3 linked regions of the Homo sapiens genome follow. The protein of the gene in region 1 purifies or fractionates together with the protein of each later gene. This does not show direct contact. Each region holds a gene or a part of one and is shown in the gene's direction. Other genes may lie near its edges. The genes, in order: GLMN, ANKLE2 and TMEM143.

Evidence for each region.
Region 2: the proteins of GLMN (region 1) and ANKLE2 purify together in Homo sapiens (co-immunoprecipitation; 3 studies listed by BioGRID and IntAct, with this or other methods). This does not show direct contact.
Region 3: the proteins of GLMN (region 1) and TMEM143 purify together in Homo sapiens (affinity purification with mass spectrometry; 2 studies listed by BioGRID and IntAct, with this or other methods). This does not show direct contact.

What each region holds. Positions count from the first base shown.
Region 1 is NC_000001.11:92,264,412-92,268,064, reverse strand, and holds part of GLMN (glomulin), read left to right. Parts: intron 1-62; coding exon 63-152; intron 153-1,323; coding exon 1,324-1,365; intron 1,366-1,471; coding exon of another isoform or gene 1,472-1,525; intron 1,526-1,572; coding exon 1,573-1,646; intron 1,647-3,426; coding exon 3,427-3,511; intron 3,512-3,653.
Region 2 is NC_000012.12:132,751,726-132,755,378, reverse strand, and holds part of ANKLE2 (ankyrin repeat and LEM domain-containing protein 2), read left to right. Parts: intron 1-245; coding exon 246-704; intron 705-3,653. UniProt on the Homo sapiens protein: Involved in mitotic nuclear envelope reassembly by promoting dephosphorylation of BAF/BANF1 during mitotic exit.
Region 3 is NC_000019.10:48,357,323-48,360,975, reverse strand, and holds part of TMEM143 (transmembrane protein 143), read left to right. Parts: intron 1-799; coding exon 800-904; intron 905-3,653.

The sequences.
Region 1 (3,653 bases):
TGTCAACAAATAACAGCTGTTGACTTCACTATATATGTATCTGCATATATTTTAATCTGTAGGAGCTGCTGGAGAATAGTTTATTGAGAATAGAAGACAATAGTCTACTTTACCAGTACTTAGAAATCAAGAGTTTTCTTACTGTACCTCAGGTAAATAAAATATGTATTCTAATATTGAAAATAGCCCTTTGCCTGTTCTGAACTTAAAGTAAGGTCTTTTCTGATTCCTTTCCCACTCTTTTCTCTGCAACCTTTGAAAACTCTGGTGTAATGCTGTCCAGTAGAACTTTGACAATATGAAAGCCACTAGCCAAACTGAACACTTGAAATGTGACTAAGGAACTATTTTTTTTTTTTTTGAGGTGTAGTCTTGCTGTGTCGCCCAGGTTGGAGTGCAGTGGTGCTATCTCAGCTCACTGCAAGCTCCACCTCCTGGGTTCATTCCATTCTCCTGCCTCAGCCTCCCGAGTAGCTGGGACTACAGGCGCCCGCCACCACACCCAGCTAATATTTTTGTATTTATAGTAGAGACGGAGTTTCACTGTGTTAGCCAGGATGGTCTCGATCTCCTGACTTCGTGATCAGCCTGCCTCAGCCCCCCAAAGTGCTGGGATTACAGGTGTGAGCCACCACACCCAGCCGGAACTAAGTTTCAAATTTAAATTTTAATTTATTTAAACACGAATAGCTATTAGAGGCCACCATTATTGATAGCACAGCATCCAGTAGAAAAGCATAACTTTCTTCTTTTAACACTTTATTTCTGTAGGGATCTTGGAAAATGAAGCTTCTTTATGTTTCTCATAACTCAAGTTCTCAGGACTCCATCTAAGGCATCCACTGACTCATTACCAGAAAGACTAATACACATTGTGTTTTTCCCTCCTATGGTTTATTTTGCCCAATCCTCTTTGTTAGTTATGATATCCAAGGAAATCCTTAGATTTCAGTGTGGGAACTGGTTTTCCTAATATTTAAATAGAAAAACATGGTTTTTGTTAACATATTGTTTGATTGTTTTTAATTAATAAATTATATTTCTGTAGATTTGATTTCATTTTCTTGCCACTGTAGACATAATTGAAAATTATCGTTTGCTTTTAAAAGTACACTGTGTGACACTCTACTCAATATCACTTAAAAAATCAATTGTAGTTAGCTTTCTGGAATGGAAGGCTTAGGGAAAAATTAATTTACTTCACTTTTAAATCTCCTACCCTCACTTCTCTGAATTTTTAGTATCCTATTGATGTATTATAGTTGTTTGTTTGCAGTCAGTATAATCTGTTTACATCTGAATTTTACATTTTTTTATTTCCAGGGCTTAGTGAAAGTAATGACACTTTGCCCCATTGAGACACTGGTATGTAAATATTTGGTGACTAAAGAATAATGAGTTACAGTGAGAAAATTTGACAAATAATTTAATTTTCTTTTTAAAAATTTTAATTTGTGAAATTTTTATTTAGGAGGTACAAGTGTGGATGTATTACATGCATAAAATGGATAGTGATGAAGTCTGGGTAAGCTTTATTCATTTTATATAATAATATTGTTTGTTCCATTTTAGAGGAAAAAGAGTTTAGCTATGCTTCAGCTGTATATTAACAAGTTGGATTCACAAGGCAAATATACATTATTTAGGTATGTATCAAGCATGGCTAATTGCTAAGTGTGTGGTTGATTAAAAGTCATGTTAATGCCATGTAATTGTTTTAGGGCATAGTATGTCGGTATGTTTTACATGTAATTCAACTCTGGTTGGAACCCATATTATAAATTCTCAGTGATGGCTAGAGAAAGGGTTAATCAAATATTTCAGACATACTATATATATGTCTATATTTTGTATGACTAATAGTATATATTGCAGTTCAATCAATTGGAATACTCTAAATTTGAAATAGACTTAAAAATAATTAAACTGAGATTGATGATGCTCCTGCTGGAACTTTATGTATGTCACTAATCTCCATTACTCACAGTTCAAATTGATGGCTCTGGAATTACAACTTTGATAGGCTATGCACTATGTTAATAGTAAGAGCTTACTAATACTGCTCTTTGAGGTGGATAAGATTCTAGCAACTCTCTAAGTTAAAGATTGGTAAACTTTCTAATTAATTTTCTGTGAAGAGCCAAATAGTAAATATAGGTTTTATGGGCTATACAGTCTCTGTTGCAAGTGCTCAACTTTGACTTTGTATTGGGGATGGGTGTGTTCCAGTAAAACTTTATTGATAAAATTGGGCATCAGGCTGGATTTGCTAAAATGTCTTACCTGGGATTGGCCAATATTAGTACTGTTCTTTTTTGGCGGGTGCAGCAGTGTGATCATGGCTCACTGCAGCCTTCACCCTTGGCCCCCCAGCTTCAGGTGATCCTCCCGCTTCAGCCTCCCAGGTAGCTGGGACTACAGGTGCATGCCATCATGCCCAGCTAATTTTTTTGTGGAGATGGGGTTTTGCCATGTTGCCCAGGCTGGTCTCAAACTCCTGGGCTCAAGCGATTCACCCACCTCAGCCTCCCAAAGTGTTGAGATGACACGCATGAGCCATCATGCCCAGCCAACACTCTTGATTCTATCTTTTCTTGTTTTCTATTGATAGTAAGAGCAAGTTTATGAAATCTCAATTCTTAGGTATTATACCGGCTTTCCTGTTCTGTTCTATGTGTATCTCTACCAATAAATCCCCTTTTTTTCTTAAGCTAGTCATATCTAGTTTTTTTTTTTTTTTTGCAATTAAGCTACTCTAGCACTGGACTACTTTCACAGGAAATAATTTGGGGATTTTTTAGACCATTATGTTAGTGCCCTTTCTTGCCATGTTAAATTATTGTAACTATGTTCATAAAAATATTCAAATTTTGGTTTGATAGAAATGGCTTGTTGGAAGATCCAGTTATAAATAAGTATTTACCGGCCGGGTGTGGTGGCTCATGCCTGTAATCCCAGCACTTTGGGAGGCTGAGGCAGGCGGATCACGAGGTCAGGAGTTTGAGACAAGCCTGGCCAACATGGTGAAACCCTGTTTCTACTACAAATACAAAAAATTAGCCAGGCACGGTGGCGGGCGCCTGTAATCACAGCTACTCAGGAGGCTGAGGCAGGAGAATCGCTTGAACCCGGGAGGCGGAGGTTGCAGTGAGCCAAAATTGTGCCACTGCACTCCAGCCTGGGCGACAGGGCGAGACTCTGTCTAAAAAAGTAAAATAAAATAAATAAGAATTTACCATTTAGTGAGAGCAATAACTATTACAGGTGACTTTGTAATTGGTTGATGACCTTGCTAATTACCATTACTGTGGGGTTTTTATTCCTAGAAGTAACACATGGCCTCTTTGAATTTGTAAAACTTTTATCACCATTTAATTCTAATGCTGTCCAGGATAATTTCACATCTATTGTAATTTTGCTTTCAAGGTGCTTATTGAATACAAGTAATCACTCAGGTGTGGAGGCTTTTATTATTCAAAATATCAAAAATCAAATTGACATGTCATTAAAGGTAAGAACATAGCCAAAGTGTCAATTACCAATTTATTTCGTAGGGTATATTTATTCATATGTAGAATACATTAATGTGAGTTATTGCTCTATCTCTAGTATTACTATTACTTAAATATTATTAAGGCATATTTTTTCCCCTA
Region 2 (3,653 bases), on another chromosome or scaffold:
AGAGACGTGGTTTCACCATGTTGGCCGGGCTGGTCTCGAACTCCTGACCTCAGATGATCCGCCCGCCTCAGCCTCCCAAAATGCTGGGATTACAGGCGTGAGCCACCGCGTCCAGCCAAGAAAAAAAGTTTTTAATGAAAGAAACAGAAACTGATGCCATTATATAATGAACCCTAGTACCCATCACCCAGCTTCAGCAGGTGTTAGTATTTTGTGACTCTTTGATTTTTTTGTCTTGGGCCTAGGTGAAATGACAATGGATGCTCTGTTGGCTCGATTGAAACTTCTGAATCCAGATGACCTTAGAGAAGAAATCGTCAAAGCCGGATTGAAATGTGGACCCATTACATCAACTACAAGGTTCATTTTTGAGAAAAAATTGGCTCAGGCTTTACTGGAGCAAGGAGGAAGGCTGTCTTCTTTCTACCACCATGAGGCAGGTGTCACAGCTCTCAGCCAGGACCCACAAAGGATTTTGAAGCCAGCTGAAGGGAACCCAACTGATCAGGCTGGTTTTTCTGAAGACAGAGATTTTGGTTACAGTGTGGGCCTGAATCCTCCAGAGGAGGAAGCTGTGACATCCAAGACCTGCTCGGTGCCCCCTAGTGACACCGACACCTACAGAGCTGGAGCGACTGCGTCTAAGGAGCCGCCCCTGTACTATGGGGTGTGTCCAGTGTATGAGGACGTCCCAGCGAGAAATGGTAATGGGACCGTGTGTAGGATTTCCTCACACAGATAGCACATACGCGGAGGGGCGGGATGACGTCTGAAAATGGAAAACTACAGATTAAGAAGGAAAAAATCCAATCCCCTCCATCTCATCACCCCAGTTAACCATTGTTAACATTTTTATGTAGAACTTTTCTGAAATATTTGTGAATTTAACATGAGAACTGTTAAAATTTGTGAGGTAAATTGGATTCTATGAGATATGCTGGACTGAGATATTAATATTAACTGGCTGCTGCTGTTGGTTAGGAACTTTGTTGATTAGTCATCTCCGCCTTTTTAAAATGCAGTGTAACCTGCACATCTTTTATGTTAATGAATGCAAATGGCCAATGAGTGTATAAATACTTTTCAGCATCAAAGATTTGTGGTTTTATTTTGTTTTTATTTATTTATTTATTTTTTGAGACAAAGTCTCACTCTGTTGCCCAGGCCAGAGTGCAGTGGCGTGATCTCAGCTCACTGCAACCTCTCCCCTCCCAGTTTAAGCGATTCTCCTGCCTCAGCCTCCTGAGTAGCTGGGATTACAGGCGCCTGCCACCGCGCCTGGCTAATTTTTTGTATTTTTAGTAGAGACGGGGTTTCACCATCTTGGCCAGGCTGGTCTTGAACTCCTGACCTCATGATCCACCTGCCTTGGCCTCCCAAAGTGCTGAGATTACAGGCTTGAGCCACCGCGCCTGGCCATTTTATTTTTTTAATTTATTCATTCATCTGAAACAGGGTGTTACTCTGCCACCTAGGCTGCATTGCAGTGGTGCAGTCACAGCTCACTGCAGCCTCAACCTTTCTGGCTCAGGTGATCCTCCCACCTCAGCCGCTTGAGTAGCTGGGACCACAGGCATACGCCACCACGCACAGCTAATTTTTATGGTTTTTTTTTGTTTTGTTTTGTTTTGTTTTTTTGAGACAGAGTCTCGCACTGTCACCTGGGCTGGAGTGCAGTGGTGCGATCTCAGCTCACTGTAACCTCAGCCTCCTGAGTAGCTGGGAACTACAGGCGCCCGCCACCATACCCAGCTAATTTTTTATTTTTTGTATTTTTAGTAGAGACAAGGTTTCGCGATTTTGGCCAAGCTGGTCTCGAACCCCTGACGTCGTGATCTGCCCACCTCGGCCTCCCAAAGTTCTGGGATTACAGGTGTGAGCCATCACGCCCAGCCAATTTTTGTATTTTTTATAGAGGCGGGGTTTCGCCACGTTGCCCACGCTTCTCTCGAACTGCCCTCAAGCGATCCACCCACCTTGGTCTCCCAAAGTGCTAAGATTACAGGCACACACCAGCACGCCTAGCTAATTGGTTGTTTTTGGTGGTTTTTTTTTTTGAGACTGGGGTCTCTCTCTCACCCAGGTTGGGGTGTAGTGATGCAATCTCAACAACTCACTGCAATGTCTGCCTACCAGGCTCAAGGAGTCCTCCCACCTCAGCCTCCGGAGTAGCTTGGGATCGCTGGGATCACGGGCACGTGCCAGTACGCGCCAGTTTTTTTGTATTCTTGGTAGAGACAATGTTTCCCCATGTTGCCCAGGCTGGTCTCCCAACTCCTGGGCTCAAGTGATCTGCCAGGCTCAGCCTCCCGAAGTGCTGGGATTACAGGCGTGAGCCACCTCGCCTGGCCACACCTAGGTAATTAAATTTTTTTTTTTTTTTTTAAGAGACTGGGTCTCGCTTTATTGCTTAGTCTGGTCTTGAACTCCTGGCTTCAAGCAGTCCTCCCACCTGAGCCTCCCAAAGTGCTGAGATTACAGGTGTGAGCCACTGTGCCCAGCCCAAGAATTGTAATTTTAAAGAAGATTTAGCATTGGAAAAAAGAAATGAGAACTCAGTATTAATTGGGATGCCAGAAATTGCACACTGTTATGAGTATTGTTATTACTGTGATACCATTTGTGGTGACGCCTATGAGTACATAATTGGTTAAACACTATGAATAGAATGGAATATTGTTCTGTAAGATCTTTTTAAAGAATACGTAGGGGCCGGGCGCGGTGGCTCACGCCTGTAATCCCAGCACTTTGGGAGGCCGAGGCAGGCAGATCACGAGGTCAGGAGATCGAGACCATCCTGGCTAACACGGTGAAGCCCCGTCTTTACTAAAAATACAGAAAATTAGCGGGGTGTGGTGGTGGGCACCTGTAGTCCCAGCTACTTAGGAGGCTGAGGTTGCAGTGAGCTGAGATTGTGCCACTGCATTCCAGCCTGAGCGACAGAGCTAGATTCCATCTCAAAAAAAAGAAAGTAACACTGGGAAATGATCATGGTGCAGTTTTTATTTTTATTATTTATTTATTTATTTACTTATTATTTGAGACAGAGTCCCGGTCTGTCGCCAGGCCGGAGTGCAGTGGTGCGATCTTGGCTCACTCCAACCTCTGCCTTTTGGGTTCCAGTGATTTTCCTGCTGCAGCCTCCCGAGTAGCTAGTACTACAGGGGTGTGCCACCACGCCCGGCTAATTTTATATTTTTAGTAGAGACAGGGTTTCTCCACGTTGGTCAGGCTGGTCTCAAACTCTCAACGTCAGGTGATCCACCTGCCTCAGCCTCCCAAAGTGCTGGGATTACAGGCGTGAGCCACCGTGCCCGAACTATGGCTATTTTTATCCAGTAGTGGACAGTAACCATTCGTCTGTTACATTGTTCATAAATTTTTGTCTCCTGGCCAGTAGTGTATATCTTATGTATTTACGATAGTCTCATACAAAACTTAATTGTGATAGTTCCACTACAGAGCTTTAATATTTTTATATAATCAGGATTATCTTGTTTTGAATGGTTTCTTGGCATGTTTAAAAAGGCATTCCCAGCCGGGTACAGTGGCTCATGCCTGTAATCCCAGCACTTTGGGAGGCTGAGGTGGGCAGGTCACCTAAGGTCAGGAGTTCAAGACTAGCCTGGCCAACATGGTGAAACCCCGTCTCT
Region 3 (3,653 bases), on another chromosome or scaffold:
CTTTACAAAAAATTGAAAAAAATTCGCCAGGCATGGTGGTGGGCACCTGTAGTCTTAGCTACTCAGGAGGCTGAGGTGGGAGGATCGCTTCATCCCAGGAGGTTGAAGATGCAGTGAGCTGAGATTGCACAACTGAGCTCCAGCCTGGGTGACAGAACGAGACTCTGTCTCAACATAATAATAATAATAATTCCATCTACTTCTGGAGGATGATATTACACTGTCAAACCGTTCCTGGAATTGTGTGTGTGTGTATTGGCTAGGAAATGTCAAAGCAAAAACTTGAACCTCCAGCTTTTTAAGCCCAGTATAGTTTTTCACTATATTTGGCTGCCTCAGTTTCAGTAAAATTGGTCAGCCCCCACCCAACCAAAACAAAACTTTTTTTTTTTTTTTTTTTGAGACAGAGTCTTGATGTTGTCTAGTCTGGAGGGCAGTGGCACGATCTCGACTCACTGCAGCCTCCGCCTCCCTGGTTCAAGCAATTCTCCAGCTTCAGCCTCCTGAGTAGCTGGGACTACAGGTGCATGCCATCACGCCCGGCTAATTTTTGTATTTTTAGTAGAGACAGGATTTCACCATGTTGGCCACGCTGGTCTTGAACTCCTGACTTCAAGTGATCCACTGCCTCGGCCTCCCAAAGTGCTGGGATTACAGGTGCGAGACACTGCGCCCAGCCCCAGAACAAAACTTCAAAGTCCAGAGCTCTGATTGTGTAGTTAGGCAGCCAGGGAAAGAATTCTTTCCCTCGGGGAAGGGGAAAAGGCCTACAGAGAAGTTTTGCTTCCTGAGGTAACAGGAATTCCACTCGAGTCCGGCAGAGAAGGCGGCTTTGGAGGCGTTCTCGGCCCACGTGGACTTCTGCACCCTGTTCCACTACCACCAAATCCTGGCCCGGCTGCAGGTGAGGACGGGGCCCTTCCAGCCCTGTGGTGCTTGTTCGAGCATCCGCTCATTTAGCAAACATTCCCTGACACCTTCTTGGAGCCTGGCCCTTATTTTAAGTGCTGGGGATTCAATAGTGAACATGACAGGTGAAGTGACGCCCTCATGGAGCCAACATTCCAAGTGGGGAGACAAGGAATCAAATAAATATAAAATATGATGCCTGGTGGTGATAAGTGCCATGAACAATGAGGCGGAGTAGTGAGATAAAGAGGGATGAGATGGGTCGGGCGCGGTGGCTCACGCCTGTAATCCCAGCACTTTGGGAGGCTGAGGCGGGTGGATCACAAGGTCAGGAGATCGAGACCATCCTGGCTAACACGGTGAAACCTCGTCTCTACTAAAAATACAAAAAAATTAGCTGGGCGTGGTGGGGGGCGACTGTAGTTCCAGCTACTCGGGAGGCTGAGGCAGGAGAATGGCATGAACCCGGGAGGCGGAGCTTGCAGTGAGCCAAGATTGCGCCACTGCACTCCAGCCTGGGCGACTGAGGAAACTCTGTCTCAAAAAAAAAAAAAAAACAAAGAGGGGTGAGATGGGGCCTGTTTCAGACGGGGTGGGTGGGGAAGGGCTCCCCAAGGAGGTGACATGTGGGCTAAAGGCTTAGTGAAGAGGGGGAACGAGCCTGATGAATGCCTGGGGGAGGATGTTCTTGGCAGATGGAAGAGCAAGTGCAAAGGCCCTGAGGTGAGTGGAGGCCTGGAGTATTGAACAGTGAGGAGGCCACTGTGGCTGCAGGAGAGTGAATGTGCGGGGAGGGTGGGATATGAGGGCAGAGGGGATGGGGACAGATCGTACTGGGCCTTGTGGGCCACTGTGAGGACCTTGCTTTGTTTTTTTGTTTGTTTGTTTTTGTTTCTCAGATGGAGTTTTTGTTCTGTTGCCCAGGCTGGAGTGCAGTGGTGCGATCTCAGCTCACAGCAAACCTCCGCCTCCCCAGTTCAAGCGATTCTCCTCCCTCAGCCTCCTGAGTAGCTGGGACCACAGGCGTCCACGACCTCCCCCTGCTAATTTTTGTACTTTTTGTAGAGACTGGGTTTCACCATGTTGGCCAGGGTGGTCTTGAATTCCTGACCTCAAGTGATCCACCCGCCTTGGCCTCCCAAAGTGTTGGGATTACAGGCGTGAGCCACTGTGCCAGGCCGAGGACCTTGCTTTGACTCTGAGTGAGCCGGGAGCCATGGGAGGGCTCTGAGCTGAGGAGAGATGTGAGCAGCGGATTTAGGTGTTAACAGGATTTCTCTGGCTGCAGTGTAGGGAACAGACTATCAGAGGCAGGGACATCTATGAAAGAGTCTATTATATTTGTCTAGGGGAGAGATAATGGAAGCTCCGACAAGGGTAATAGCGATGGAAATGGTGAAAAACGGTCAGATGCTGGTTATGTTGGAAGGCATCAGCGTTTTGCTGATGTGCTGGCTGTGGGGGTGTTCTGGGGAGGAAGAGAGAGGAGTAGGGGTGCGTCTCCAGCAGTTCTGGCCTGAGCCTCCTGGAGGATGGAGCTGCCATTTACTGGGATGGGGGAGACCGTGGTGGGATGGGGAGAAAGATCTGCAGGGAGGACTGAGAGCTCAGTTTTGGACTTAAGAATTTGAGCTACCATTTATTTATGAATTTATTTATTCTAATATATTTTTTTTTTTTTCTGAGACAGAGTCTCACTCTGCTGCCCAGGCTAGAGTGCAATGGTGCGATCTTGGCTCACTGCAACCTCTGTCTTCCGGGTTGAAGTGATTCTTGTGCCTCAGTCCCCCGAATAGCCAGGATTACAGGCGTGTGTCAGTACGCCTGGCTAATTTTTGTATTTTTAGTAGAGATGGGGTTTCACCATGTTGCTCAGGCTGGTCTTAAACTCCCGACCTCGTGATCTACCTGCCTTGGCCTCCCAAAGTGTTGGGATTACAGACGTGAGCCACCGTGCCTGGCCCATTCTTTTTTAATTAAAACATTTTTTATTTCAGTAGTTTTTGGGGTACATGTGCTTTTTGGTTACATGGATGAATTCTGTAGTGGTGCATTCTGAGATTTTGGTGTGCCCATCACTAGAGCAGTGTACACTATACCCAATATGTAGTCCCTCACCCCCATCCCAACCCCCCTCCCTGAGTCCCCAAATTCCATTATATCACTCTGTGTATCTTCGCACCCTCATAGCTTACTTAGCTTCCACTTATAAAGTGAGAATACGGCTATTTGGTTTTCCATTCCTGAGTTACTTGACTTAGAATAATGGCCTTCCAACTCCATCCAATTACTGCAAGAGACATTATTTTGTTCCTTTTTATGGCTGAGTAGTATTCCATGGTGTATATAGACCATATTTTCTTTATCCATTGAGCTGCCTTTTAGAAAGGCAGGTAGAAAGATGGACTTGAGGCCGGGCGTGGTGGCTCATGCCTGTAATCCCAGCACTTTGGGAGGACAAGGCAGGCGGAGCATGAGGTCAGGAGATCGAGACCATCCTGTCTAACACGGTGAAACCCTGTCTCTACTAAAAATACAAAAAAAAATTAGCCGGGCGTGGTGGCGGGCGCCTGTAGTCCCAGCTACTCGGGAGGCTGAGGCAGGAGAATGACGTGAACCCGGGAGGCGGAGCTTGCAGTGAGCCAAGATTGCGCCACCGCACTCCAGCTGGGCGATAGAGTGAGACTCCGTCTCAGAAAAAAAAAAAAAAAAAAAAAGAAAGATAGACTTGAATATGTGGATCT